4 linked regions of the Homo sapiens genome follow. The protein of the gene in region 1 interacts with the protein of each later gene in a biochemical or structural test. Each region holds a gene or a part of one and is shown on either strand. Other genes may lie near its edges.

Evidence for each region.
Region 2: the proteins of FKBP8 (region 1) and BCL2 form a complex in vitro, tested with the Homo sapiens proteins (4 studies listed by BioGRID, with this or other methods).
Region 3: the proteins of FKBP8 (region 1) and EGLN1 form a complex in vitro, tested with the Homo sapiens proteins (2 studies listed by BioGRID, with this or other methods).
Region 4: the proteins of FKBP8 (region 1) and CALM1 form a complex in vitro, tested with the Homo sapiens proteins (3 studies listed by BioGRID, with this or other methods).

The regions. Positions count from the first base shown.
Region 1 is NC_000019.10:18,540,564-18,547,806, forward strand, and holds the start of FKBP8 (peptidyl-prolyl cis-trans isomerase FKBP8), read right to left. Parts: upstream 3,011-7,243; 5' UTR 2,923-3,010; intron 1,433-2,922; 5' UTR 1,408-1,432; coding exon 1,116-1,407; intron 1-1,115. UniProt on the Homo sapiens protein: Constitutively inactive PPiase, which becomes active when bound to calmodulin and calcium. Seems to act as a chaperone for BCL2, targets it to the mitochondria and modulates its phosphorylation state.
Region 2 is NC_000018.10:63,316,770-63,324,698, reverse strand, and holds the start of BCL2 (apoptosis regulator Bcl-2), read left to right. Parts: upstream 1-4,929; 5' UTR 4,930-5,525; exon of another isoform or gene 5,526-5,746; 5' UTR 5,747-6,032; coding exon 6,033-6,617; coding exon of another isoform or gene 6,618-6,650; exon of another isoform or gene 6,651-6,745; intron 6,746-7,929. UniProt on the Homo sapiens protein: Suppresses apoptosis in a variety of cell systems including factor-dependent lymphohematopoietic and neural cells. Regulates cell death by controlling the mitochondrial membrane permeability. Appears to function in a feedback loop system with caspases.
Region 3 is NC_000001.11:231,419,274-231,426,925, forward strand, and holds the start of EGLN1 (egl nine homolog 1), read right to left. Parts: upstream 3,015-7,652; 5' UTR 2,616-3,014; coding exon 1,725-2,615; intron 1-1,724. UniProt on the Homo sapiens protein: Cellular oxygen sensor that catalyzes, under normoxic conditions, the post-translational formation of 4-hydroxyproline in hypoxia-inducible factor (HIF) alpha proteins.
Region 4 is NC_000014.9:90,400,029-90,407,048, reverse strand, and holds part of CALM1 (calmodulin-1), read right to left. Parts: intron 6,985-7,020; coding exon 6,954-6,984; intron 5,791-6,953; coding exon 5,647-5,790; intron 3,188-5,646; coding exon 3,081-3,187; intron 2,671-3,080; coding exon 2,535-2,670; intron 2,361-2,534; coding exon 2,332-2,360; 3' UTR 1-2,331. UniProt on the Homo sapiens protein: Calmodulin acts as part of a calcium signal transduction pathway by mediating the control of a large number of enzymes, ion channels, aquaporins and other proteins through calcium-binding. Calcium-binding is required for the activation of calmodulin.

The sequences.
Region 1 (7,243 bases):
TCTCCACTAAAAATACAAAAATTAGGGGCCAGGTGTGCTGGCTCACACCTGTAATCTCAGCACTTTAGGAGGCCAAGGCAGGTGGATCACCTGAGGTCAGGAGTTCGAGACCAGCCTGGCCAATGTGGTGAAACCCTGTCTCTACTAAAAATACAAAAATCAGCCAGGCATAGAGGTGGGCACCTGTAGTCCCAGCTACTCAGGAGGCTGAGGCAGAAGAATCGCTTGAACCTGGGAGGCGGAGGTTGCAGTGAACTGAGATCGCACCACTGCATTCCAACCTGGGTGACAGAGTCAGACTCTGTCTCAAAAAAAAAAAAAAAAGTAGTAAGATTTTTATCAGTAGTGGTGGTGATATTTAGTAATATTTCTGTTCCATCAGTGTCAATATGATTGGAAACTATTGCTACAGTATTGTTATTACAATTGATAGTGGTAATGATATCTTATTATTTGCATGGGCACCAGCATTATTTGGTATATTAGATATCAGTACTATACTAGTAGCAAGACGTCTTCCACAGAAAACTAACATTTCTCTTGTTTTCAGTTGCTGTGATGGGGTATGTTGGGGGGAACATGTGGGGGCTCATGTAGTTTTCTTCTTGTAGGATTGCTCTGAGCATTTACAATACTATCACTACTGTGAACCAACCAGAAGGCTGAACAAAATAACATTCCTCTGATCCACTTGACCCCAGAACACATTTTTTGTTTTGGAAGTTGGGGTCTCGCTGTGTTGCCCAGGCTGGCGTGCACTCAGGACACATTTTTCAGAGCCCAAGCATGTGTCAGACAAATGCCAAAAAAAGATGCATTGATGGGGTTAGGAGCTGCCAGCGCCTGGCGTGCTGGCTGTGTGGCTCTGGGCAGGTGACTCAGCCTCTCTGAGCCACTGTTAGCAGATCTGGGAAACGGGGACACAGCACATTGTGCATGTGTGTGAGTCAGTGGATAGAGTACATCAATGTGAAGCATCTCCAGTAGTTGCCTCTGGCTGGTGATCACGGTGGTGACCACGTGACTTCCAACCCTCACAGCACAGATGGGGAAATGAGGCTCAGGGGACGAGAGGGCCAGGGCCAAGGGCACCCTGATCCACCTTTGCTCCTTACCCAGAATGTCCAGCCACTCTTCTGGGGCCGGGGCTGGGGCGGGCTCGGGCTCCATGGCAGCAAGGAACTCTCGGGCCAGGGCCCCAGGCTGCTCAGCCTCCTCCGCCGGGGGTTGTCCCATGTCCTCCAGCGGTGGCAGCTCACTCAGGTCATCCTCTTCCTCCTCTTCCTCCTCCTCTTCCTCCTCACCCTCTGCATCCTCAACCCCATCCAGTACCTCGAAGTCCTCGAGCGGTGGGACCCCGGCGGGCAGTGGGGCAGAGGGCTCAGAGGGTTCAGCACACGATGCCATGCTGCTGGGGGGACAGGAATTGGCCCTGGAAGTGGGGGGCAGAGATGTGGGTCAGAATCCTACACAGCCCCTCAAAGTCTCCACTGTACTGATTCCCCACACTGCCGATCACTTTCTGTGTAACTCAAGGGCTCCAGGCCTCAGTTTCCTCATCTATACAGTGGGTGTAACAACAACCCCAGCTTGTTGGGAGAAATTAACCCATGCATCAAGCCCTTGGCATCAGGCTCAAATAGTGTTAGCCATTATTAGAGCTAATTATTATTTAATGTTTACAAATACTCCAGGAAGTAGGGAAGATTCCCCTCAACATTTTGCAGAACAGGAAACAGGCCAGAGGGGCAAAGGCATTTGCCCAAGGTCACAGAGAAAGCCAAAGGCCAAAGGAGGATTTGAACCTGGGGCTTCAGGCCCTGTGGCTTTGCCTGATTATAAGCTGAGCGAAGGGTGCTGGGATTTTTGTGGAGAGGACAGCCTCCGAGGCCTTAGGGAAGCCATTTTTAGAGCCTCTAAGGCCACTGGGGGAAATTGAATCTTTTACCAGGGCCTCCCACCTCCAGCCTCTTCTCCAAAGGGGAGACCCTCCCCAAAAGCACCAACTGTAATCACCCAGAAACCCCAAGCGTTTTTTCCTTCCACACTCTGAATCTAACACTATCCCCCACAACCCCAACATCAGGGACCCTGGCCCAAATCCTTCCCCAGGAGACCATCCTCCTCTCATCAGGCCTCGGTCCCACCCCCTCAAAGCAGCCTCCTTTCCAGGAGTGGTCGAGGTCCCACCACATTCTACAGCCTCTTCCTTGCCCCAGACCTCCTGAACCAATAACCAACCCCTCCGTCCCCCAGGCCCCAAGCTCAGAAGAGTGTGGCACAGCCATCAAACCAGCCCGCCGCATCCCCTCCCTAACCCTCACCTGCCTGCTCCTCCCGGGCTCGGAGCCCCACTTTGAGAGACCCTCCCAGCCCCCACCCCCATAATTCCCCGCGCCCGCACAATTCGGCCTCCCCTCCCACCCCCCACCCCAACCACCACCGCCCCCAGCACGGGCCAGCTCCCCCCACAGCCGCTCCGTCTCGCCGTAAACACTCCAGTGTCCCCAGACGCCCCCCCCTTTCCGATCCCATAACACCCCACGCTCTCCTGACGCCCCACAGCCCCGGCCGGGCCCTCAGTCAAGCCGCGACCCAGGCCCCCAACGACCCACGCCTGTCTGACGCCACCAGTCTGGGGCACCCGACCCCCGCACGCCTCGGGCGCCCCTGGCCCTGCACGCCTCCATCGGGACCCCCCCACTGGATCCCCTTTGCCCCCAGTGACCCCCATCCCTGGCCACCCCCGCCCGGCCGCGCCCCCTCGGGCACCCCCGACCCCCGTGCCCCCCCGGCTCGCCACCCCCGCGGCCCCTCGCCCCGCCCATCGGCCGCAGCCCCCGGCGCGCTAGCCCCCGGACCAGCCTAGGCCAGGGCAGCGGCCCGGCCGGCACGGCGCCCCCAGCACCCCAGGACACTTGCCTCTGGCTCCGGGACCCCCACTTGGGGTCCTGCGCCCCCCTCCCCGCCCCCAGCCGCGGCCGCCGCGCCTCGGGAACCAGGTTCGGCCGCTTGGCCCCGCCCCTGCCGTGCCCATTGGCCGCCGCTGCCGCGACTGCCGCACCCGTTGGCTCATGCAGACGTCCGTCCCGGGCGTTGGCACCTCCCCCTTCCTGCTTGGCCCCGCGGGGCGTTCTTAAAGGGACCGAAGCCTCCCGGCTGCTGGGGCTGGGGCGGGGGCTGGGGCGGGGGCTGGGGCGGGGGCTGGGGCGGGGGCGGGGGACCCTGGGCTGGACCCCAACACGGGTCAGTATCGCGCAGCCTGTGCGACTCCTGCCTCTCCTCTGAGCTTCATCCTGACCATCTGCGAAATGGGGATAAACACCCCCATCTATGCACTCTCACCTTGGGGGCTGCTGGGGGCACAGTCCACTCTAAATGTTATTTCCTTAAAGAGTTCAAGCTTGACGGGCAGGGCAGCTCTGGGGTTGCTGAATGACCCATCCTGAAGCCTTAGTTACAGAAGTGAACCTGAGGGCCTGAGGAGGAGTGACGTGCCCAAAGGCATACAGAAACCTCCCTCCCATCCCCCACACAGTTTAATGTCTAGAAGGTTGCCTGGTGCATACTGGAGGCGCTCGATTACTGCTGCGCAGGCGACTGAGCCAGCAGGGCCACTGGGAGGAGTTCCTCCTCTATGCACTGTCTGCTGGAGGGTGATAAGGTCCCCATGGCTCGGGAAGAAGGTGGCATCCTTGATTAGCTAAGTTTTTGTGGATCTTGTTTTGAAACCGGGACACTTCTCCCTCCTTCACTCAGTTTTATTTCCTTCCTAGCAGTTACTCCTTCCAGAATTATCTTGTCATTATTTTGCTTGTGGTTGGAGGGACCATCCCTCACTCTGCTTCATCCTGGCAGAGATTTTTACCTGATTTGTACCCAGCACCTCCTTGAACCATGCCTGGCATCTATAGAAGCTCAATAAATGGGTAGGTGGATGGATGGATGGATGGATGGATGGATGGATGGATGGATGAGTCAGACACCAGCTTTTGGAGGTAGCTATCATGGAGGTGGTAACTGGCTTTTTGGAGATCACTTCTAAGGTTGGAGTTCCCAGGTTACCTCCTACAGGAAGCCCTCCCAACCTCCCCAAGGCAAGACCAGGTGCCCCCTTTAGCTGTCTTGGCACAATGAAGTTGATGAACGTCCACTTCATAACTAGTTTACTTGGGTTTTTTGTTTGTTTGTTTGTTTTTGTTTTTTGAGAAGAAGTTTCACTCTTGTTGCCCAAGCTGGAGTGCAATGGCGCAATCTCAGCTCACCGCAACCGCTGCCTCCCAGGTTCAAGCGATTCTCCTGCCTCAGCCTTCCAAGTAGCTGGGAGTAGAGGCATGCACCACCATGCCTGGCTAACTTTGTATTTTTAGTAGACACGGGATTTCTTCATGTTGGTCAGGCTGGTCTCAAACTCCCGACCTCACGTGATCCGCCCACCTCGATGTACCAAAGATTACAGGCATGAGCCATCGTGCCTGGCCTTTTTTTTTTTTTTCTTTCTCTTTTTTTTTTGAGACAGAGTCTCTCTCTGTCGCCAGGCTGGAGTGCAGTGGCGCGATCTCGGCTCACTGCAACATCCACCTCCTAAGTTCCAACGATTCTCCTGCTTCAGCCTCCTGAGTAGCTGGGACTACAGGCACCCGCCACCATGCCCAGCTAATTTGTATATTTTTAGTAGAGACAGGGTTTCACCATGTTGGCCAGGATGGTCTGGAACTCCTGACCTCATGATCTGCCTGCCTCGGCTTCCCAAACTAGTTTACTTATATCTCTGCCTTTTTTTTTTTGAGATAGGGTCTTACTTTGAAACCCAGGCTGGAGTGCAGTGGCACGATCTCAGATCACTGCAACCATGTCTATCTCCTGGGCTCACGCAATCCTCCTGCCTCAGCCTCCTGAGTAGCTGGGCCCACAGGTGCACCATCATGTCCAGCTAATTTTTTTTTTTTTTTTTGAGACAGAGTCTCGCTGTGTAGCCCAGGCTAGAGTGCAGTGGCGCAATCTCGGCTCACTGCAAGCTCCGCCTCCCAGGTTCACACCATTCTCCTGCCTCAGCCTCCCAAGTAGCTGGGACTACAGGCGCCTGCCACCATGCCCGACTAATTTTTTGTATTTTTAGTAGAGTCAGCGTTTCATCGTGTTAGCCAGGATAGTCTCGATCTCCTGACCTTGTGATCTGCCCACCTCGGCCTCCCAAAGTGCTGAAATTACAGGCGTGAGCCATCGCGCCCGGCCCAATGTTTATATTTTTTGTAGAGATGGGGTTTCCCCATGTTGCCCAGGCTGGTCTCGAACTCCTGGGCTCAAGCAATCCTCCCACTTTGGCCTCCCAAACTGTTGGGATTATAGGCGTGAGCCACTGCTTTGATTTACCTCTGCCTTGCCCTCTACACTGGCAGAGCCCCAAAGTCTGGGAAGGCTTTGTTCTTTCTCATTGTTATAGCTCTGAGGCTTGCACAGTGCCTGCCACAAAAGGTAGTGGTGGGGTCTCACGGAAATCACTGAGGAAGGAAGGGAGGTTAAAGGTGGTAGCATAGCAGAGCTATGTAAGAAATCACCTGGAGGGCTGGGTGCGGTGGCTTATGCCAGTAATCCCAGCACTTTGGGAGGCCGAGGTGGGTGGATCACCTGAGGTCAGGAAATCTAGACCAGCCTGGCCAACATGGTGAAACCCCGTCTCTACTAAAAATACAAAAATTAGCCGGGTATGGTGGTGCATGCCTGTAATCTCAGATACTGGGGTGGCTGAGGCATGAGGACTGCTTGAACCCCAGGGGTGGAAGTTGCAGTGAGCAAGACCCAGTCTCAAAAACAGCCTTTGGGAGGCTGAGGCAGATGGTTCACCTGAAGTCAAGAGTTCGAGACCAGCCTGGCCAACATGGTGAAACCTGTCTCTGCGAAAAATACAGAAATTAGCCGGGTGCGGTGGCACATGCCTGTAATCCCAGCTACTTGGGAGGTTGAGGCAGGAGAATCGCTTGAACCCGGGAGGCAGATGTTGCAGCGAGCCAAGATCACGTCACCGTACTCCAGCCTGGGCAACCTAAGCCTGGGTAACGTAGTGAGAGCCTGCCTCTACAGAATATTAATTAATTAATTTGGAGACACAGTCTCCCTCTGTCTCCCACGTAGAGTGCAGTGGAACGATCTGGGCTCACTGCAACCTCTGACTCCCAGGTTCAAGCGATTCTCCTGCCTCAGCCTCCTAAGTAGCTGGGATTACAGGCGCCTGCCATGACACATGACTAATTTTTTTTTTGAGACAGAGTCTAGTGAGGCTGGAGTGCAATGGTGTGATCTCGGCTCACTGCAACCTCTGCCTCCCAGGTTGAAGCAATTCTCCTGCCTCAGCCTTCCTAGTAGCTGGGATTACAGGCGCCTGCCACCATGCCTGCCTAATTTTTTGTATTTTTAGTAGAGATGGGGGGGTTCCGCTATGTTGGCCAGGCTGGTCTTGAACTTCTGACCTTGTGATCCACCTGCCTTGGCCTCCCAAAGTGCTGGGATTACAGGCATGAGCCGTCACACCTGGCCTCTACAGAAAATTTAAAAATGTAGTCCCAGCTAAATGGGAGGCTGAGGTGGGAGGGATCCCTTGAACCCAGGAGGTCGAGGCTACAGTGAGTTATGATCAAAGTTCTGCACTGCAGCCTGAGCAACAAGGCAAGACGCTGTTTCTAAAATAATAGTAATAATTATTATTATAAATTAATAAGCTACTAAAATAAACTATAAAATAACACCACCAACAATAATAATAATGGCTGGCACTCATTGAACAGATATTTGCAGGCAAACATTTTACTTATATTTGCTTTTCCCTTTTTTTTTTTTTTGGGACAGAATCTCGCTCTGTCGCCCAGGCCGGAGTGCAGTGGCACGATCTCGGCTCACTGCCACCTCTGCCTCCCAAGTTCAAGCAATTCTCCTGTCTCAGCCTCTGGAGTAGCTGGGACTACAGGCACCAGCCACCAAGCCTGGCTAATTTTTGCATTTCTCGTGGAGACGGGGTTTCACTGTATTGGTCAGGCTGGTCTCAAACTCTTGACCTCGATCTCAAAAACAAAACAAAACAAAACAAAAACAAAAAAACAAGACTGCTCTACTTGGAGGCCATATCATTGGCTGCATGTAGAGTTGCAATTGTGTTTCCTGGTGAACTGAACCTTTTTTTTTTTGAGATGGAGTCTCAATCTGTCGCCTAGGCTGGAGTGCAGTGGCAAGATCTCAGATCACTGCAGCC
Region 2 (7,929 bases), on another chromosome or scaffold:
AAAGCATGACTGGGGCTTATATAATGCTTGCTGGCAATGTATGCAAACCATTTGAAAGAGCATGGCACTACCTACCACACAAATTTATAATGTATAAGATTCTTGAAATTGGAAACTGGCATTTTGGATTGCTAATCTAAGCCTATGAGAAGTTATTATTATTATTATTATTATTATTATTATTATTATTTTTGTGAGACAGAGTCTTGCTCTGTTTCCAGGCTGGAGTGCAGTGGCGCGATCTTGGCTCCCTGCAACCTCTGACTTCCTGGTTCAAGTGATTCTCCTGCCTAGCCTCTCGAGTAGCTGGGATTACAGGCACTTGCCACCATGCCCAGCTAATTTTTGTAGTTTTAGTAAAGACAGGGTTTCACCATGTTGGCCAGGATGGTCTCGATCTCCTGACCTCGTGATCCATCCACCTCGGCCTCCCAAAGTGCTGGGATTACAGGCATGAGCCACTGCACCCGGCTGAGAAGTTATTTTTTAAGCAGTTTTCTTTCTTTCTTTCTTTCTTTCTTTTTTTTGAGATGGAGTCTCACTCTCTCACCCATGCTGGAGTGCAGTGGCATGATCTTGGCTCACTGCAATCTCTGCCTCCCGGGTTCAAGCAATTCTCCTGTTTCAGCCTCCTGAGTAGCTGGGACTACAGGTCCCCGCCACCACGCCTGGCTAATTTTTGTATTTTTAGTAGAGACGGGGTTCCACCATATTGGTCAGCCTGGTCTTGAATTCCTGACCTCAGGTGATCTGCCCACCTCTGCCTCCCAAAGTGCTGGGATTACAGCCGTGAGCCACTGCGCTCGGCCTCATTTTTCTTTTATGCAAACTATATGGACTACTTGTTTTTATTCTCTCTAGTCAGCTCATTTTATTTATGGATTAATTTCCATTTCAGGTTGGGGCCATGGTTTACTCTTCCATCTGACCTATTAGTTATCAATATCCTCAGTTAATAGTCTCATTCTACCCACATTTTCAATAAAAAGTTTACTAGCTGGGAAGATTTGATACACACACATGATTTTTTTTTTCTTTTCTTTTCTTTTTTTTTTTGAGACAGGGTATCAGTCTGTCACCCAGGCTGCAGTGCAGTGGTGTGATCACAGCTCACTACAGCCTCCACCTCCTGGGCTCAAGTGATCGTCCTATCTCAGCCTTCAGAGTAGATGGGACTACAGGCACACACCACCATGCCCCGCTAATTTTTGTATTTTTTGTGGAGATAGAGTTTTGTCATGTTGTGCAGGCTGGTCTCAAACTCTTGGCCTCAAGCAATACACCCACCGCAGCCTCCCAAAGTGCTGAGATTACAGGCATGAGCAACCACACCTGGCCGATACATACCTATATTAAACATTAGTATGTTCATGTTAGAATAATGTACCTTTTGAATTTCATAAACTTGGAGAATATTTATATTGATGATGGATGAAAGAACTTTCTTGGATGGATGAAGAGAGTAACGCTGTGAAACAACCAGCAGGTGGCGAAAACTGGCAATCAAAAGCTTTTTGTTTGGTGGCCTGGGGAATGAAGACGGAAAGAAAACACAGGCCATTCAGACTCTTGATACAATCTCCATTCCCTGCATCTTGTTTTTTTTCTCTTCCTGGTGCCACGCTACTTGTAGAATCCAACCAGGTAAAGCTGCCAAAAGGGTCATCCATTGGCTCTTACAAGTAGAAAACATCTTGGAAAGTGAAAAGTCCACTGTGCATATGTTTGTAAGGTTGTTGGAAGGTCTCAGGCATAGATCTAGGATTCAAATCCAGTTACTCCTGCCTCAGGCTGGTGTTCCCTCCCCCACCTCAGCATTGCCCAAAGACGAGTAGTCAATGTCACATACTTCCTGGGAATACTTGCCCTTATGCTTTAAAATGGAATCTAATAAACATGGAATCTGAACGCAGGAATGGTTTCACTCTTTCATTTGAAAGAGTATCTAGAACATTCCCAGGGAAAATATAACCCCTAGCCAAAGACTGCAATACAGACCTGTCTCAAGACTGATTATAGCCAAGATGCCACATAAGGAATCAGTCTGGGAAAATCCATAGAGTGAGGCTCTGTGGGAGCAAAGGAAGACGAAAATCAGTCAGCTTTTCTTTCTCTGGAAGTAGGGGATCCGTTTCCTTCTGGCTGCCCCCTTTGCAGAAGTACAGTTTCTTTTGCAGGTTTGTCCTATCATTTCCTCACTCATATGCTGAGTATTAGGAGCTTGAAGCCTTTCAATTCCTCTTAGGTAATTTTGGGGCTTTAAAATACGCTTTCAAGATTTCTAAACCATACTGTTGTGCAATTGGTATGAATTTATGTGAGAACATTTATTCTAGGTCAATCTATACCCAGTGTCTATCCAGACCAAAACACCTCCCACGCGCATAAAAGGGACTCTGTCCCAACCATCAGAAGGGCAAGAAGGAGGATCTCCTTTCATCCCCTCTTGCCTGGATAAGAAATTTGTACCCAGGCCCCCATTCCTATGTGAGAGAAGTTGGCTTGTTGGGCTGATGGGATACAATAAATGAAGAAATAAAATAAAAACACCCAAGAGAGATGGCAGTGCGTATAGTCCCAGCTATTCATGAGGCTGAGGTGGGAGAATCCTTCGAGCCCAGAAGTTCGAGTCCAGCCTGGGCAACATAGCAAAAGCCATCTCTTAAAAAAAAAAAAAAAAGGCCAACTAAGTAAAAATTAAAAAAATCATAATTTGGTGTGCTTTTCTGGCTTTTTAAAGAATGTTTTGATTTTAGAGTAGGAATGAGACAAAATAAAGATGTCAGGCAGGGCACAGTGGCTCATGTCTGTAATCCCAGCACTTTGGGAGGCTGAGGCAGGCGGATAACGAGGTCAGGAGTTCGAGACCAGCCTGGCCAGTATGGCGAAACCCCGTCTCTACTAAAAATACAAAAATTAGCAGAGCGTAGTGGCGTGCACGTGTAATCCCAGCTACTCAGGAGGCTGAGGCAGAATTGCTTGAGCCTGGGAGGCAGAGGTTGCAGTGAGCTGAGATCGCACCACTGCACACCAGCCTCCAAGATACAACAGAGCAAGACTCTGTCTCAAAAAAAAAAAAAAAGTCATAGCATATTTGTACACATTGTAGTACTCATTTGTCATCTTTCTTGACCCCAATAATCCAGTGTCCCTATATATTTGCACTCGAGCCCTATTAAGTAAGCCGCTGTGCTTCTAGAAGACCTTTTTCTTTTCTTGGTGCTTTGTCAAAGACTCTTGGAGATAAAAATACACACGTGCAACTTGTTTGTCCTCTTGTCCTTTTTTGCTAGGGGCTATTCATGCTGATTAATTTAAAACTGTCTGCTTGCGCGTACACACGTCTGCGAGTGTGAATGTGTATGTGTGTATCTATGTACCTCATTTGAGAAAGTGCGGCCAACTAGGATTGGCTACGAGGCAAAGGTGGAGACCTTTAGGAGCCCACCCACCCCAGCGTTAGGACGGTGGGCCTGAAAGTTACTATATGGAAGTCCTCATCGTGTAGCACTAAACCAGTGTAAAAGGTGTTAGGGACAGAGGGAAAACATTGACTTAAACTGTCGTAAAGCCCTTGATAAACCCCTTCCCTGGAGCGCTGAGTTCTGCATGGCCTGGGCCACGGACTAGGTGTTCAGGTGGACACGGGCGGGGATGCGCGTGCGTGTGTAGTGCGCGGACACCTAGGAAGCTACTTGAAAGTAAACACCACGCTCGGGGCGTCCCTAGACATTGCTTAAAACGTGCAGAGTCACCTGTCTTCACAGCAGGGCAGCGCTGAGGTCCCACTGCTGGGGGCGGTGGGGGGCGGCATTGGCCTGGGTCTTCCCCCGGCGGCCGAGCGCCGGTAACACAACGTGTGTGTGTGTAGGCGCGTGTACACACTCTCATACACGGCTAGAAAGGGTCCAGGCGACACACACACTCCCACATACACGGCTAGAAAAGGTCCAGGCGAGACACACACACACACACACACACACACACACACTCCACACACACTCACACGGCCAGAAAGGGTCCAGGCGGTTCCCGGCGCTTTTCCAGCCCTTGTTTTCATGGCGCACCCTCCCGCCAGCCGCCCCCCTCCGCACTCCGTCGTCCGCCCGGCCCGGCCGCGTGCGGTTCCCCGGGAGCCCCCACCCCGTCGCGGACCCCAGCGACCACCAAGTCCGCACGCGGCCTGCCGCAGGCCTGAGCAGAAGGCCCCGCGCACACCCACCGCGCCGCGGCCGCGCGGGAGGCCTGTGCCGCCCGCGCCACCCACTGGCCGGGCCCCGCGGGCGCAGCGGAGCGGGCGGGTGGCCGGCCCGGACGCGCCCTCCCCGGCCGCGGCCCCGCGCGCCATGTGCCCCCGGCGGGACGCGCCACTCCCGGGCCTGCCGCGGCGCCTTTAACCCGGGCCAGGGAGCGGGGCGGAGGGGGCGGTCGGGTGGCTCAGAGGAGGGCTCTTTCTTTCTTCTTTTTTTGAATGAACCGTGTGACGTTACGCACAGGAAACCGGTCGGGCTGTGCAGAGAATGAAGTAAGAGGACAGGCACCACAGCCCCGCTCCCGCCCCCTTCCTCCCGCGCCCGCCCCTCCGCGCCGCCTGCCCGCCCGCCCGCCGCGCTCCCGCCCGCCGCTCTCCGTGGCCCCGCCGCGCTGCCGCCGCCGCCGCTGCCAGCGAAGGTGCCGGGGCTCCGGGCCCTCCCTGCCGGCGGCCGTCAGCGCTCGGAGCGGGCTGCGCGGCGGGAGCTCCGGGAGGCGGCCGTAGCCAGCGCCGCCGCGCAGGACCAGGAGGAGGAGAAAGGGTGCGCAGCCCGGAGGCGGGGTGCGCCGGTGGGGTGCAGCGGAAGAGGGGGTCCAGGGGGGAGAACTTCGTAGCAGTCATCCTTTTTAGGAAAAGAGGGAAAAAATAAAACCCTCCCCCACCACCTCCTTCTCCCCACCCCTCGCCGCACCACACACAGCGCGGGCTTCTAGCGCTCGGCACCGGCGGGCCAGGCGCGTCCTGCCTTCATTTATCCAGCAGCTTTTCGGAAAATGCATTTGCTGTTCGGAGTTTAATCAGAAGAGGATTCCTGCCTCCGTCCCCGGCTCCTTCATCGTCCCCTCTCCCCTGTCTCTCTCCTGGGGAGGCGTGAAGCGGTCCCGTGGATAGAGATTCATGCCTGTGCCCGCGCGTGTGTGCGCGCGTGTAAATTGCCGAGAAGGGGAAAACATCACAGGACTTCTGCGAATACCGGACTGAAAATTGTAATTCATCTGCCGCCGCCGCTGCCTTTTTTTTTTCTCGAGCTCTTGAGATCTCCGGTTGGGATTCCTGCGGATTGACATTTCTGTGAAGCAGAAGTCTGGGAATCGATCTGGAAATCCTCCTAATTTTTACTCCCTCTCCCCGCGACTCCTGATTCATTGGGAAGTTTCAAATCAGCTATAACTGGAGAGTGCTGAAGATTGATGGGATCGTTGCCTTATGCATTTGTTTTGGTTTTACAAAAAGGAAACTTGACAGAGGATCATGCTGTACTTAAAAAATACAAGTAAGTTCTCTGCACAGGAAATTGGTTTAATGTAACTTTCAATGGAAACCTTTGAGATTTTTTACTTAAAGTGCATTCGAGTAAATTTAATTTCCAGGCAGCTTAATACATTCTTTTTAGCCGTGTTACTTGTAGTGTGTATGCCCTGCTTTCACTCAGTGTGTACAGGGAAACGCACCTGATTTTTTACTTATTAGTTTGTTTTTTCTTTAACCTTTCAGCATCACAGAGGAAGTAGACTGATATTAACAATACTTACTAATAATAACGTGCCTCATGAAATAAAGATCCGAAAGGAATTGGAATAAAAATTTCCTGCATCTCATGCCAAGGGGGAAACACCAGAATCAAGTGTTCCGCGTGATTGAAGACACCCCCTCGTCCAAGAATGCAAAGCACATCCAATAAAATAGCTGGATTATAACTCCTCTTCTTTCTCTGGGGGCCGTGGGGTGGGAGCTGGGGCGAGAGGTGCCGTTGGCCCCCGTTGCTTTTCCTCTGGGAAGGATGGCGCACGCTGGGAGAACAGGGTACGATAACCGGGAGATAGTGATGAAGTACATCCATTATAAGCTGTCGCAGAGGGGCTACGAGTGGGATGCGGGAGATGTGGGCGCCGCGCCCCCGGGGGCCGCCCCCGCACCGGGCATCTTCTCCTCCCAGCCCGGGCACACGCCCCATCCAGCCGCATCCCGGGACCCGGTCGCCAGGACCTCGCCGCTGCAGACCCCGGCTGCCCCCGGCGCCGCCGCGGGGCCTGCGCTCAGCCCGGTGCCACCTGTGGTCCACCTGACCCTCCGCCAGGCCGGCGACGACTTCTCCCGCCGCTACCGCCGCGACTTCGCCGAGATGTCCAGCCAGCTGCACCTGACGCCCTTCACCGCGCGGGGACGCTTTGCCACGGTGGTGGAGGAGCTCTTCAGGGACGGGGTGAACTGGGGGAGGATTGTGGCCTTCTTTGAGTTCGGTGGGGTCATGTGTGTGGAGAGCGTCAACCGGGAGATGTCGCCCCTGGTGGACAACATCGCCCTGTGGATGACTGAGTACCTGAACCGGCACCTGCACACCTGGATCCAGGATAACGGAGGCTGGGTAGGTGCACTTGGTGATGTGAGTCTGGGCTGAGGCCACAGGTCCGAGATGCGGGGGTTGGAGTGCGGGTGGGCTCCTGGGGCAATGGGAGGCTGTGGAGCCGGCGAAATAAAATCAGAGTTGTTGCTTCCCGGCGTCCCTACCTCCTCCTCTGGACAAAGCGTTCACTCCCAACCTGACCGATAACGCCTGCCATCTAAAAGTCTTTAACTTGCTTGCTAGTCGTGGAGATCCAAAGATCTAGCGTTTGTAATCCAGTAGGATGTGGTGGTAAATGGTACCCCTTCAGTGTTTCTCAAGCTGAAGGTCCAGGAGTCCCCAGGACCACCGTTTCCTGGCTTGAGCAGCTTGTTGGAACCGGAGGGAGGTTTCAGGGACTGCTTATGAACCAGATACCAGGTTGGGTCTTGACAGTCTGCATCCCAAACAAGCTCCCCTGAAACAAGCCCGTTGTACACTAAAATTGGAGAACAACCCGATTAGAAGAATAGACTCCACAGAAGACCAAGGGCATCATCAATCGGTAAAATTTTCCAAAAGAGGAAAACCAATGTAAGTCTTTTTCCCTGAAAAACTTAGTTGTGTTTGTAAAGAGCTAAGTTGACATTCCAAAGTCCTTGGACTGGAATCTCCAGTGTGTGCCATGTTCCCAGTGGGCGTGATGAGGTGTCCTGAGGAGTATCAGGCTATGGCTTTGCTACCTTGTCAGTGACAGAATTTGCATCGGCTGCATTCTTTGTATTCTATAATTTGTGTATGGTTTACCAGTTTGCTAGAATGTTAGAATCTTTTGTTTTTCACCACTCAGAGTGGACCTAATTTTGTGGTCGGCTGAAAAAAATTTGCATCTAGGTATCTATGTAAAGTGTAGAAGAATTGATTCTTAGCTGTGGATTATCTTACCCTTACTTTAGTTGAAGTGATTGATACCTGTGGCTTTGAAGAACATTTGTGAGATGATCTTTTTCTCGTACTGTGCTAGATAGAGCTTTCATCATTATACCATACAATTGTACTTTTCTGAGATTCTTTGTTGGAGGGGGTTTAGTTCCTAAGAGTCAAGGATTGTAATGGAGATCTATATCTCATATCTAAAATGATGAATTTATGAAAAAGTAATTCTTGTGTGAAGTTTTTTTTTTTTTTACACTTTTTGTTTTAATCTGAAGAGTTATCTTTGAAAAACAGGATGCAATTCAGTGCTTCCTTTTATAGCCTCTTGGGAGAATGACTAATGTCATTATTTTATAGGACCTAACAGGAGCAAAAAGCCTAGAAATTACTGCAAGTGGATTAGATGTCAAGAAGCACA
Region 3 (7,652 bases), on another chromosome or scaffold:
AAGCATTTGCTCTAAGAGCCAGGCTGTCTGCTGTCCCTTCTCTAAGGACAGGTGAAAGCAGGAAGACAAAAGAGAAAAGAGGTCTCAGCTTAACTTGGAAAGCTAAATTAACTAAGGAAAGCAGATCAAGAAAGATTTGGGACATCATCTTCTTCAAGAATCCAATTTAAGCTTATGTCCCAACTATATACTTTGGTCAGTCTTCACAGCCCTATTGTCTCAAACTAATTTCTTTCCTGCTCTGGAGCTCAGGACTTTATGTTCAGATGTGACAATTTCTTAAAGTTGTGCCCTGACAACTTTCTTAAAAATTTTATCAATGAAAATCTAGTGAAAGACCAACGCTGAAATTTCATCAGATCCCCCTTTTCCTTCCAGTTTAATATTATTCAACTGTTCCTTTTTAAGACTACAAGAAATTAAGACTTGTGCCTTCATCCAGCAATGAAGTGGCAATAGGTAAATTAGACTCCACATTGTATTTTTCCCCACAAAATGTTCACGTTTATAACTTTCTCACTGCCTATGTTCAGTCTTTCGGGCAGCCTGAGAATCACATGTAATGACTGTCAAAGTAGATGATCTGACACACACATACAGAAAAACCACTAGTTAGAGTCAGCGTGTGTGTACAAACATGCAACTGTGATGCTCTCCCAGGTCAATCTCTCAAAACCCACAAAATCAGAGACTGATGGTGGAGGAGGGTGGCCTGGGAGCAGCCACAAAGAAAAGATCAAGATCTGAGAAGTAAAATGAAAAAGAGCTGCAAGAGAGTTGGTTAAGGACGAAAGAGTCTACTGTTTATCATGAGGGAGGAAAGAGGGAATAGACTAGGTAAGAAGTGAAGAAATCTGTGGAGGAAAAACCGCAATAGTAAAGAGAAAACAAAAAGATCTCACCAAATTGGGAGGATAAAACGAGCCCTCCTGCGCCAATTCCGTGTTGTTGTTTTGTTTTGTTTTGTTTTCCAGGAAGTTACAAAACAGTTTTCAACAGAAGGATTACATTAACAAAGCAAATAAAGGAAACTGGTGCTAAAAATGTAGCCTACCTACACTGAGAGGCCTGAAGACGGAAATACTTCTTTCCCCTTTTTGTAACGGGTTTCAAAACAGTAGGAACAGGGTGAGGGATAAGAGCTATAACAGGGGGAGGGGAGTAGCCAAGCTCTTCCTGAATACAGAGTCTTTCGACTAAATGCTTATTTTAAATGTACCTTTTTGCGGTCAGCCGGCAAATTCCTAACTGAACACAGCGTTTGACTCTCAATCGAAATGTGATGAGTGGTTCAGACACCATAGGAAATTTAACAGCTTATGCAAACACAAGGCAGATGCAGAACCAGGACTTGCTTTGGGTGGTACTCTAACACCCCTTCACTGGGTGGCTAAAACGCCACTAAGGTTTGAATTGTGACCAATAGTGGAATGGAAAAAAGAAAATAGGAAAGTTAAAGCGCCTACGTTGAGTCAAAAAACCATGCAATTAGCCGGAGAAGTTTGTGAACGGGCAGTAAGTGGAAAACAGTGGATACAAAGGGGCTAACTAGATAAACAGCTACTACAAATTCTGTCCGTCTTCCTTACGGGGAGCTACACAAGAAAGAGCGAGTCCCTTCTATATAGAGGAATGCTGCTTCTCAGCCTAGGCAGTTTCAGTCGCAGGCAGGGGCTGCCCGCCGAGAAGGGCCTGTCCAGCACAAACCCGCAGCACACACTTACTTTCGTCCGGCCATTGATTTTGTAGCTGCCCAGCTTCCCGTTACAGTGGCGTATCAGGTCGTCCATGCTGCTCATGAGCAGCCCAATGGTTTCGCAGCCGGGCTCCTTGCCCTCGATCCAGGTGATCTTATCGCCTCGGATGTCCTTGGACGAGTCACTCTTCTGGCTGACCAGCTGCCCGTCCGTGAACTTCCCGGTGTCGTGCAGGGCGCGCACCTCGTCGCCGATCTGCTGTCCGGTCTCCTTGCCGAGGAAGTCGTCCACCACACAGATGCCGTGCTTGTTCATGCACGGCACGATGTACTCGAGCGCCAGCTTCAGCGCCGGCAGGGGCTTCGTCTGCCCGTTGGGCCGCAGGCCGCCGCCGGGGCTCAGCGCATCCCCGGGCGTGTTGCTTGGGGGGTACAGGTTCGCCTTCTCCTGGAACAGCGATGAGCGGGCCGGCGGCTCCTCCTTGCCGGGCTCGGCTTCGGCAGCCACCGCCGAGCCCTGGCCGCCGGCGGCCGCACGACACGGCGACGCGGCCGCCGCTGGGTCGGCCGGGGGCTTGGCCTTTACTTTTCCCTTGGCCGCGTCCCCGGAGGCGTTGTCCCGGCGCGCCGCTGCCTTCCTGGGCTCCCGGGCCCCGGCCCTGGGCGGCGGCACTGCAGCCGGCGGCGCGGGGCCGGAATGCTGGTGTGGGCCCACTCCGTGGCCGAGGGCGCCCTCGCTGCCCTGGCACACGAGCTTGTGCTTCTTCCAGTCCTGACGCTGGTGCTCCTTGCAGCAGTAGAAGGAGCTGCGGCAGCGGCTGCAGCGCAGCAGGTTCTCCATCTTCCCGCACAGCTCGCAGTACTGCCGGTCTCGCTCGCTCGGGCTCGGCCCGCCGGGCCCGCCGCTGTCATTGGCCATGGCGGCGGCGGCGGCGGCGACGGCGACTGCGGCGGCCGAGCAGGAGGGGTAGCGGCCGGACGGCCTCGCCCGAGGCTGGGGAGCGGGGAGAGAGATAGGGGCCGTTACTGCGCCATGCACCCGCTACCCTCGCCTCAGGGAGGCCGGCACCCCACGCCCTCGGCCCGGCCGCTTCCGAGTCCTAAGCTCCGGCGCAGCGCCGGCAGCCGCCTCAGCGCCTCATCGCCGCCGAGGGCTGAGAGAATAGGGCCTGTGCGGCGAATGGCAACCTGGGCTCAGGCGCGCGGGCCTGGGGAGCGCAAGACCGGCCCCCTCGGCCGCCGCCGCCGCCTCAGCGTCCCGGGCGGCCCGGCCCAGGCTGTGGAGGAGCGCAGGGCATACGGGCGCCACTCGCTCTGCGCGCTCTGCACGTACACCACGGCCCCGCGGCGACCCGGGCGGGCGGCGCGCGAGGGCGGAGGGGGCGGAGGGAGGGCCGGGAGGGCCGGGGGGAGGGCCGAGGGGCGGGGGCTGCCTGCGCTCCTCCGCACTCGGCGGGGCCGGGCCTCGGCTTCTGCCTCGGAGGTGGGTCGCCCGCTTTCCCTCCGCCCGGGACCGGACTGGGACGCCGAGAGGCCGGTGCGCTACCTCAGCCCGCAGCGGCCTCCTCGGGGACGCCGAGGCGCAGGCCCGCGAGCGGCGGAAAGGCGTGGGGCAGCGCGGCAGCGCCTACACCTGCTGGAGGAGGGCGCCAGCCGCAAGCGGGTAGCGGAGCGAAGGCGGCGTAATCATGGCTGCTCTTCCTCCAGGCCGGCGCGGGGTGTGCGAGGCTCGCTCCAGTCAAGGTTGCAAGGTGGCTATTGCGATCCTCATTTTGCAGAGGAGGAAACGGAAATTCAGAGAAGTAAAGTAACTTGCCCAAGGTCACGCAAAACTGGGACTGAATCCAGGAATCAGGCTCCCAGATTCCAAGGCTGTTTTTTCCATTACACCATACAGCCTCTATTTCAAGAAGCCCTGAAATGGTTAAGAACAAAATAAGTATTACTATGGTGTTAATCCAATCTCTTGCGCCCCGTTTCGACCTAGTTTAAAGGTAATGAAATTTGAGGGTTTTAAAAAAAATCAAAAACTCATTTTTAAAACCTTTGAAATCCCGCCGAGTTCAAAACCCCATGAAGAAATTTTGGGCTACCAAGTTAAATGTAATCAATGCTCATTCCAATATCCAATTTAAACTGATGGGATTATTCCTGAAAAGTGAATTTTGATGGTAAATGAGCAGTACTACATTAACGACTCTCACATTTATTTTTAATAGAATCTGTGCTGCGCGGATGAATACAATTCTTTGTTTTACAGAGCATAAAAACCTTACCAGAAATAAGCCAAAGATGTTTCTTTCTGCTGCTATTTGTCTTAAGAATTAAAAGGTCTGTGATTTCGAGTTTATCAATCTTTATCGAACACTATGTGGAAAGTGGGGTGCTAGGCTTGTGTATCACTTGAGTATACTGTAACTTCAGTCCTTGAAATATAGCCTTCCAAACTTAAAAAGTTGTAATATGTATTTCAAAAGCAGGATATAAGGAATTATTGTAAACCATATTGTAGAAGTTTAAAAAGAGGCTTGAATCCAAAAATATAAAACCTCTTCATCAAATATACAGAATTTAAAACTGTTATAAAATCCTGCTGCATGCGTAAATGGCATTCTGGGGATCCAATCAAGTGAAAGAGGATGATAATTCCAATTAGCTTGTCCTTTGGGAAACTGAGATAAATATACTCACATCTTCAAATTTCAAACCGAACTAAAAATCCAAGTTTCTGTAAAGAATTTAGACCTAGACCTGTCTTATGTGTATCCTACTTTCCCAGAGCTTTATTAAATACAGTAAAATGTCATTGTTGCAGACATTACTAATTAGGCTGTTCAACAAATGCATTGAGAGTCCTTGACAAACAAATGAATTAGTCATACTACACTCAGAGACACATAGTCCAATGCAGGAGGCAGGTATGTAAACAAGGACAATCCAGAGTTCAGAGTTTCCTAAAAGAGGGATGAATAGGATGGAATGGGAACACAGAAAAAGGAATTGCTAGCTCTGCCATTTGCACTAATAAAATCCAAGCAAATTAATTCAGAAATTCTTAAAATATAAAGGAGCTATCTCATGGCTTACGAAAATAAGCATTTAAAACATTTTTCATACACATAAATTATGTAAAATGTAATTTAAATACAAGTAGAGTCTAATACTTCTTAGGCTTCCTTTTGCTATAGTAATTATACATGAGGCTTAATTATTCACAAGAGCAGGAACTTTACTAGGAGGACTCATTCCACAAACACTTGATTCTTCCAACAATTTCTTTTAAATTTGCTATTTCAGTCTGTGGTGTGTCCACAAATTATTTACATCTCTATATGCTCTACTCATATATTTTCATTGAAGTTTACTTAAAAGAATAGATGTCCATATCAAAACCTTTATTAGCTTTCTTGTTCCAATTAAGTATACAAAATCACAAATTGAACATGTATATCCTAAATATACTTAATCCATCAAATAGAACACTTGCAACACTTTAATGAATACAACAGGAAAATATAAAATACTGATTTCAAATAGTTCCAAAGATCCTTGATTTCAGGATTTTCACCTATTCAGGCTTAATAATCTGAACTAATTCCAAATTAGTGAGTTTTCACCACACCATATGCTGGTGAACAATCTTGTCACCAACACGATTCTGGAACTCCAGTAGCATTGTCGCAGCCGCCACTTACTCAGATGTTATAGAGAGACTTCAAAATGTCATGCAAGTATTTATTTATTTATTTACTTATTTAAACTTTAACGGAAGGCAACACAAAGGAATTTATCTTATAAACACATGTGGTGCTTGCTGTTATGTGCCCAATCTGTGTTCTAAGCATTTTAAAAATATTAACCAATTTAATCATCATACAATGCTATGAAGTGGGTACTATTATTCTACCAATTTTACAGAAGGTGAAACAAATAGAGAGTGAGGCAATGAATGTCCCTCCCAATCCTTAATATTGTATGATTAGGAGCACTAGGTGGGTTAACTAATACTCTGGGGCAAACAAAGCCTTGTGTCTCTCAAAGCCATTAATTATTACAAATGTTTTTCTGCCCCTAACCTAATCAAAAGCAACTGTTCTAGAAACTGAAGAATGAATTAAAGTAACAGTGCTTTCCTCTCCATATCATACCAACTTAGACAAAGCTAATTGACCACCTATTTGGCTTCCCTTTGCTCTTCTGGCAGTATTTAGTTAAGCTATAAAGAAGTAGCCACTGTGAACTGACAAGAACTAAAAGAGGCAAAGCTTATGTTAACTACAAGAACAGAATTGAAGGAGGAAATGAATTTAGAAACGACTGTGTTGACTCTTGAGGAAAGCCCACTGAACAACAATCTGCCTTCCAAGGAGTAGCCCTATTTCTCCTTTAAAAATGTTTTTAAAAACACAACAGAGTATCTTTTCTGCTCAAGAAATCGAACATCTGATTGTTAACTAATGACCTCTTGTTTCCCCATCTGTGACAATCTTGTTTTAATAGGTTACAGAGAACAGAAAAATCACAAGTATAGCATAGGCATTCCACCAAGATAAACAGGAAGACAATCTTTGAGTTCTGGGAAAAGCAACTCAAAAATCTGAGCCATTTTCTAACTATAGTATTAGGACACACACAAGTAGGTGTCATTGGAAAACAGCACCTGCTTGTCTCTGTACTGGGGGTTCTGCCAGATGCACACGTGAGCTATGTGCTTCTCCTTGTACATGGAGACAGCTGTACTTTCCACCAAGGTTGTTCCCTTATGAAAACAAAATAATTGAATAGATTTGCTATATATTGGGGCGATTTATCAGTCATCAAACTTTATCAGTTTATGATTGAAAAATTACCACCAATCCTGTTAAAATTGATCATCTCAGAAATATAACAAAAATTTATAATCATCTCTCATTATAGCGAATTTTTTAAATAAATGCTCAAAAACCTGGGATACTAAATAACGTGTCGATCTAATTTTTTTTCCTAACAAACATTACCTTAATGTTGAACCAACTTTTGGGATAGTCACAATCAGTGACTTATACCAACCCAGGTTGGAGAAAGCTAAATAATTTTTCCTGTAACATTTTCTTGTGGGAAAAGTTAAACATATGCAAAAAGAGAGATAATAGTATAATCAACCTCAGCCCTAATGAGTTCAACAGTTATCAGCTTCAACAATTATCAACATTTGTTGATAGACAATTCTTCCCTACCCTCCTCCCTACTATGTCCCCCACTTTTTTTGCTAAAGTATTATAAAGCATATCCCAACTTCAATATGCACATCTGATAAGAACTTTCAAAAATCATATCCACCATGCCATTATCACACAAAATTAAGAAAAATCTCAATACTATCCATCATCCTCCAAGTATTAAATTTTTTTCGATTATATCAAAGATTCTGTTTACAGTTGCTTTATTCAATTCAAGATCTAAACAAGTCCATACATTGCACTTAGTTGTTTCTTCCTCCACCCCGCCCCACCTAATACCATCACAAATTGTCATATTTCTTAAGTCCCTTTTACTCAATTTTACCAGCATCTCACCCTTCATACTATAGATTTACTGTAGAAACTAGGCCATTTGTACTACGGAATGTCCCATATTCTAGATTTAGCTGATTACTTCCTTGTGATATTACTCCTATTTCTGCAAATAGGTAGATTTAGGATTTTTATTAGATTGAGGTTCTATATTTTAGGTAAGCATACTTTGTGGTAGTTGCCGTGTATTTCCTATTACATCACATCATGAGGCACATATGTCTGATACTTGCATTTTAATGACGAAATATTGCTCATGGGTTGAGGTGGTGTCAGCCTGATTCCTACATTACGTTTTTCATCAAACATCACCTGATTATTTTAGCATCCATTAATTGTGACTCAATCCAGTATTTCATTAGACGTTGCAAAATAATGAATTTCTAATTCTAACATTCCTCCTA
Region 4 (7,020 bases), on another chromosome or scaffold:
TCCTGTTTCAAAGGTAGTCTTTTAGGATACGCTGCAGGACCACTAAGAGTCCACCCAGCTTCTAAAGACTTGAGGGTTAGAAGGCTACATTTCGAAAAAACAAGTCAAATATCCCCCTCCAGCCCCCTTTGAAACTACCGAGAGGTCATCGACCACAGGCCTGAGACTGGGTCAGCAATCAGGCTCTTTGACCACCCCCTGCCACAAGAAATATCCAGGACATTAACTTACTCAAACCAGGAACCCTATCTCACCAGAAGAGAAACCCCAAGGTAACCTTAGGCATTCCTTTCAGATTCAGGTAATTACAAAAGCCAACCCTTAGCTCATAGTGTCAACATCTCCTCTACCAACCACCCAGCCCAAGGACCAGTAGCAGAAGCACATGGGCGATGTCTCCCCTCCACTGCTCTGACCCACCCCTCTGGCAGAAAATCTAACAAGCTACAAAATGCCAGAAAGACAGGGAGTAGGAGAAGGAGAAGCCAAGGGTCTCTATAAATCAGCCCTGAATGCACCCATTTGGCTGCCAAGAGCTTCTCACTGCCTTGCTAGCAGCCTGCCACTGTTCCCTGGCAAATTGAAACCACCCACGCAAACACTCAAAACCCCAATCTCCTTGCTAATAAGATACAACCAGTTAACACCGTGAAAAATGCACATCTCCAGCCTTCATTTCAAAAAAGAGCTCTGTACTAAATGCAATATGCTTTTAAAGGGGGTTTTACAGGGACCAATCTCAATGCAAAGACCAGTACCAGATGTCTGAGTTTTGGTTACAGGTTTATAATTAGACACAAAATTCACTCCACACTGGAGTTTTACTTTCAAGCTGGAAGCTAGCATTAGTTCTACTTGGGGGGAAAAAAGCAAAGTCAAGTCAACTTGGGAAAAAAAAAAAAAGGAGGAGGAGGCTAAGTATAATCATAAATTAAAAGTCGCGAATCAAAGGTGACTGGTAGTGTCTTTTAGGCATGAAGAGACTGGCTTACAAAAGTGACTACTGCTTCTACCACACACAGCGAAGATTGAATTACAGACACACTAAATCATGTCTCTTGCAGATGGTCTCAAGTAGTTACATAAGACAGGTAATCAGCAGCACAATTGAGAACAACCCCTAAATACATGCTTGAGAGAAAGTGGGTTTTTTTTTTTCCTTAAGAGCTCTACTGCCTGAATAGATCATTAAAAGTTACCATAATTCACCTTCCCCCCTCCCCCCAGTGAAAATGCAACTAGACCTACATGTCCATAAATAGGATGAAGCAATCGGTATCTGCTTGTTTTCAGGCAAGGTCTTGGGCTCAGAGGTTGGTGCTGGGGCCTTGGGAGGGAAACCCAATGCTGGGCTGTGGGCATTTACATGTACACTGGCCTCCCCTCCACCTGCCTTGTCCCCATTTAGATCTCAGCTTTACAAAGCATTTAACACCACTTTAAGTTAATGGTCTTTTTATTGGAAAAAAAAAAAAAAAGACTAGCATTTACAACTTGGAATGGACGTAAACTGTAATTTCTTTGAACAGCAATGTTGATGGTTGTGCTGAAGTCCACAGCCACAGCCTACTCTGCCGGCTCCAAGTCATGGTTCAGAAGGTTTTAAAAACAGAGAGTCCAAAGATGCTCCCTTGGTAAATGTTTCTTATTAAAAATTTGTGTGAACAGTGACAGCCTGACACCTGTTTCACTCTAGAACAATGCAGACAACGCTAAACCAACATACACGGGCATGCCACCAGGGTGTGTCATCGTCACCATGGGTCGGAGCACACGAAGTACAAGAGGACCATCCTACCAGTGGGGCCACGTCTCAACGGTTTATCCTTCACCCATTTTTCTGCACGTCATCCTGAGGTAAACCAATTTTAAATGTGTTTGTTTTCAGTAAACCAGCTATGACAATTTATACTAAACAAATTGAACTAGAACCCATTTGAATAGGTTTTGAATTTGTTTTTTCATTTTTCATTTTTAATACAAAGGCCTGACTGTGCTCAATCGTCAAGCTGCATGCATGAAAAACTGGCCAGCCCAAACAGTGTATTAATCATTAGCAAATGGAACTTTAAGGAGTCCTTATCATTAAGGTAGTACAAGTATTTATATTGTAAAACTGATGTGTAGCTTGATCTTTAGGGGACAGGACCACCAACCAATACATGCAGATTTTGTGTGTGTGGACAGAAGGTACTTTTGACATTCAGTTTTGCTATATAGAAACAGAATGAATAAATGAACTTTTTTCTTTTTTCTTTTTTTTGCAAGAGGTAAGTAAAAGATTCAATTTGATTCTTCTAGAGGGGGGAAAAAGGAGTTGAAAGTAGGTCTTCATTTTGCAGTCATCATCTGTACGAATTCTGAAAAGACAAATATAATAGTAACTTTTGGTTATCTTTGAAAACAGCTTTAATGAACACAACATCTTTACTGTACATAAAATAAAGTCAAAGGCTGTCTAGTGAAGCAGTTGGCTTGCTTACAGATCTAAAGGTAAGACTATGAAACACTGAGCTCAGAGAATTTAGTTTTACCTTCATAGTTGACTTGTCCGTCTCCATCAATATCTGCTTCTCTGATCATTTCATCTACTTCTTCATCTGTTAGTTTTTCTCCTAAGTTTGTCATGACGTGACGTAGTTCTGCTGCACTGATATAACCATTGCCATCCTGTGAACATTCAGCAATTGTTATTGCTAATGATGTAGTGTGGGGAAGTAGGTCTTTGACTTAGCTATGCCCTCTCAAGTTACTGCTAACTCTGCTGCCATAAACAATTCTCTGATCTCTAGTTCCCACCTCTAACCTACTAAATACATGCAAACAGCTAATGCAGAAAACAGGATTTGCAAAAGCTCACAACAATTCAAAGTAACAGTCAAGAAACATGGTCCAAAATTCCTATTTATTATGCCTACCCTCCCCTGATACGGTTACCATAAGGAGGATTTTTGAAAGTGAGATCAGAGGCTCAGGCAGTTAGATTTAAGTCTTCTGTCTATAACATTATTATAGCTTTTAGAAGTGAAAGCGGAAGAAGCCATACTTAAGTACCATCTGCTATGTAGATGCTGGATTACCTTGTCAAAGACTCGGAATGCCTCACGGATTTCTTCTTCACTATCTGTATCTTTCATTTTTCTAGCCATCATAGTCAAAAATTCGGGGAAGTCAATGGTGCCATTACCTCGAATTAAAAAACAAAAAGCTCATGTAAAGTAAGCACTCCATTAACGCTGCTCTGCAGTAATCATTTCAGAACCACTGTACGGAACGGTAAACATGTACTAGGACAAAGGGGCAGACTATCTTACTAGGTTCAATCATCTGCAGGTCTAAAACGTTCAAACACTTCACAGGGCAATTTCACATAATTTCAAACTCATCATCAGTGCCCAGGATAGTATTTAATTATACAAAGGAAACTGCACATCTGGATTCAAGCCCATGGAAGGGTCATGAAGGGCTGTACAGTTCAAGAGAAAAATAGCATACACCACTCCGCAGGCTGAATCTTTCCACTCCGAGGGAAGAAAGCGCCCCCGACTGCCATCCCTGAGTTAGGGAAATCACTCAGGTCTCACTCTGCCTTGGTTAGTGACAGCAGTAACACAAAAAAGGCCTAGAACTGAGCTGCAGGTTAAGTGTATAAAGTGTTTCAGAGGAGAAAAGATTATGAGAGAGGAACATTGATTCTGTTATGCCATGCATGGGCCATGAAGTCTTACCAAGTCTTCTCCAGGATCATTTCTTGGCCACGCTATGATGGTTAGCCACCTGTTTTCTTCCAACTCAGTATCTTTATTTCCCATTAAGGGAAAAGCTCAGGAGCATTCTCACAGCTCAGACTAGTAACACTTAGGGAACTGTCAGAACAATCTGTTCTACGGCCAGTACTCCAAACAACTCCTCTTTAAAACTAAGAGATGAATACCCCCAAAGACAAGCACTCCAGACTAACAGTGTCATTGAACTAAATGGAAATAAAATTAGAAAGAAAAACCCTTAGGTTAAGTTACTCATTTTCACCAGTACCTTTCAAAGAAAATACCTCAGGGATCCCTTCAAGACTTTTTTAGCCTCAAAAATTTTAAGATATTGTTCATATTCATCAAAAACAAAAGAAATTATTTTAAGCTATCTCACAGCCATGCAGAGAAGGTCAGGTACCATCCTGTTTTCTCAGTGCAAACACAGGATTCTGTAGCCTGGCACAACTTCTCCTTCTTCCACACAATCCAAGAGCCTAACAGACTTCTCCCCTCCCCAGGCACAGATTCCCGGGGCTCCCACAAACAAGAGGAAGTTACTCCACGTTCCTGGGTAGCTGATCATCTTAGCAAACTAGAGAACTATGGACAACCTTTTCTTTCCAAAACACTATTAGTGAAAACCACTCTAACGTGCTGAAGGCTTTGTCAAAGAACCTAATCAAAAGCTCTGCTGCCAAATGTTTGTGACCAGACAAGCGATTTTACTACACCACCCTCGAGTCAATCATCTAGAAAGTAAAATCTAGATCCGAATTGTTTATTCTTAATGCTTCTTTTATTTTTTCTTTTATCCTTTTCTCCTCCCAACTCATCTTTTAAAAATCATGTTCTATACTGTCATACAGTACATTAGAATATATATAGGATTTACCAAAATACGTGGTTTTTTTTTAGGGGTGGGGAAGTGTGCTTCAAAGCCTGCTTACTGATGGAAATCAGCAATCAAAGTTCTGTTGTCCGCTGCTGTAGAGTCGAGAGGAACAGATGACAGACCGCTATCAGGGTTACTGCTGGTTCCCTCTGGCCCTGCACCTTACAGCTTCCCTTTCCGTTAGGTTCTGCAAATCTATCCCCTGGAGTCACCACACATCCGCCTCCAAACCTCACATGCTCCTCTGCAGCAAACACATCTACAGCTCACACTGTACTCACTTTTATGGTAACTTCTAAGAGTGCTCGTCACCTACTTCATCTGGGGGTTCCTCCTCCTCTTTAAACACAGTAAGTTTGTTAAAAAGCACTTTCTATGGCTATTTAATTTCACCTCCCCCCTCAAGACTCAGTGCAGACTCATGGGCCAGTTGATAAAAGCTTTGAGCTCGGCCAGGAGCAGTGGTTCACGCCTGTAATCCCAGCACTTTGGGAGGCCGGGGAGGGCGGATCACGAGGTCAGGAGTTTGAGACCAGCCTGGCCAACATGGTGAAACCCCATCTCTACTAAAGATACAAAACACTAACTGGGCGTGGCGACACACGCCTGTAATTCCAGCTACTCAGAAGGCTGACGCAGGAGAATCGCTGGAACCCAAGAGGCAGAGGTTGCAGTGAGCCGAGATCGCGCCAGTGCCACTCCAGCCTGGGCGACAGGGCGAGACTCCGTCTCCAAAAAAAAAAAAAAAAATAGATTTGAGCTCTAGGTCGCACCAAGCAGGAAGAAAACAATAGTGATCCCATGCAGAAAACATTCTAGACACTAAGCAGGATGGACGCAAGGCCCATCATCTTCTATTTTAATTGTCAATGGCCCTGGGGCAACCACAGAAAGGATCTTTGCACATTTGCTTTGCTCTGGGGACCTGAAAGACAATCCTGTAACATGTCTGAACTTGAATTACACAACAATGGCCCTCATTCATGGTTTTAAAGCTCTTACCATCAGCATCCACTTCATTGATCATATCCTGCAATTCAGCTTCTGTTGGGTTCTGACCCAGTGACCTCATGACAGTTCCAAGTTCCTTTGTTGTGATGGTGCCATCGCCATCTTTATCAAATAGGGAGAAGGCTTCCTTGAATTCTGAAAACAAAAGTTGACCCGTTAGAATCAATGTCTTTATCCAACCCAGTCACAATACACACTTGCCGGGGGCTTGCCAAAGCCAGCCATTCAAGTTGTGCAACGTATCAGAAGTCTGGTCTTTATCTACTGAAATAATGACCACAATAGTCCTGTTGGACTGGCCTTCATACAGCAGCCCATAAAGCAAACACTGCTCCCAATAAACAGTGCCACACACCACAATATTCCCAAAGGTTTCAAGGCGGCTAAGCTGGAACATGCTTAAATTAGTCCTAAATCCAATCTTTTTTTTTTTTTTTAAACAATGGAGTCTCGCTCTGTCACCGAGATTGGAGTGCAGTGGTGCAATCTCAGCTCACTACAACCCCTGCCTCCCAGGTTCAAGGGACTAAATCCAATCTGACAAGATTGGTCCATGTGCCCCCTTCAAATCCCTTCCTGTTACATTTCTAAAGCCATAAGAATCCCTTGTTTCATAACAAATAAAATGGTTACTAGAAATGTACATTCCCAGGTAAACTCTCTCCACATGACTTTTAGAATATTTCAGAAGCATTCCTGGTTTCCTAACGAGAAACAGTCTCAAAACAAGTCCTCCAGGAATATTAAAAAGCTAAAATCTGCCAGACGTGGTGGCACATGCCTGTAGTCCCAGCTACTCAGGAGGCTGAGGCAGGAGGATTGCTTGAGCCCAGGAGTTAGAGACCAGCCTGGGCAACAGAGTTTAACTAATGTAACTTTCTTCCCAATTACTACAGTGGTCCTAACACTCATATTCACCCATTTCCATTTATTTTAGGATAGCGAGCACAAGCTTTCGTGGCAGATTACTGAAAGACCCATGGCATAAGAATTGTAAACTAAACCGCTGAGTAGCAGGCTCAGTACAATTAATCATACGCAAACTTTGCACATTGTGAAACATGGTCAAATTCTCCAGAGTTTAACATGTGGGCATCCTTAGTTTTACTTCCTTTCACCTCATCTATAAAGTACTGGCAAGAATAACATCTGACCTCAGTGTTTCTGCTTACTGTTCTTATTTAAATAAATTCTTAGAAAACTGCCCAGACTGTAGCGGGGAGGAACAGAGGAGTCACCAAAACTGAGTCAGTGCCTAGTTCTGGCCTTCTGGGGACTCCTTGGAGTTGTCAACTTACCAGCAATCTGTTCTTCGGTCAGCTGATCAGCCTATATGAAGAAAGAAAAGGTTATCATTCAGTCCAC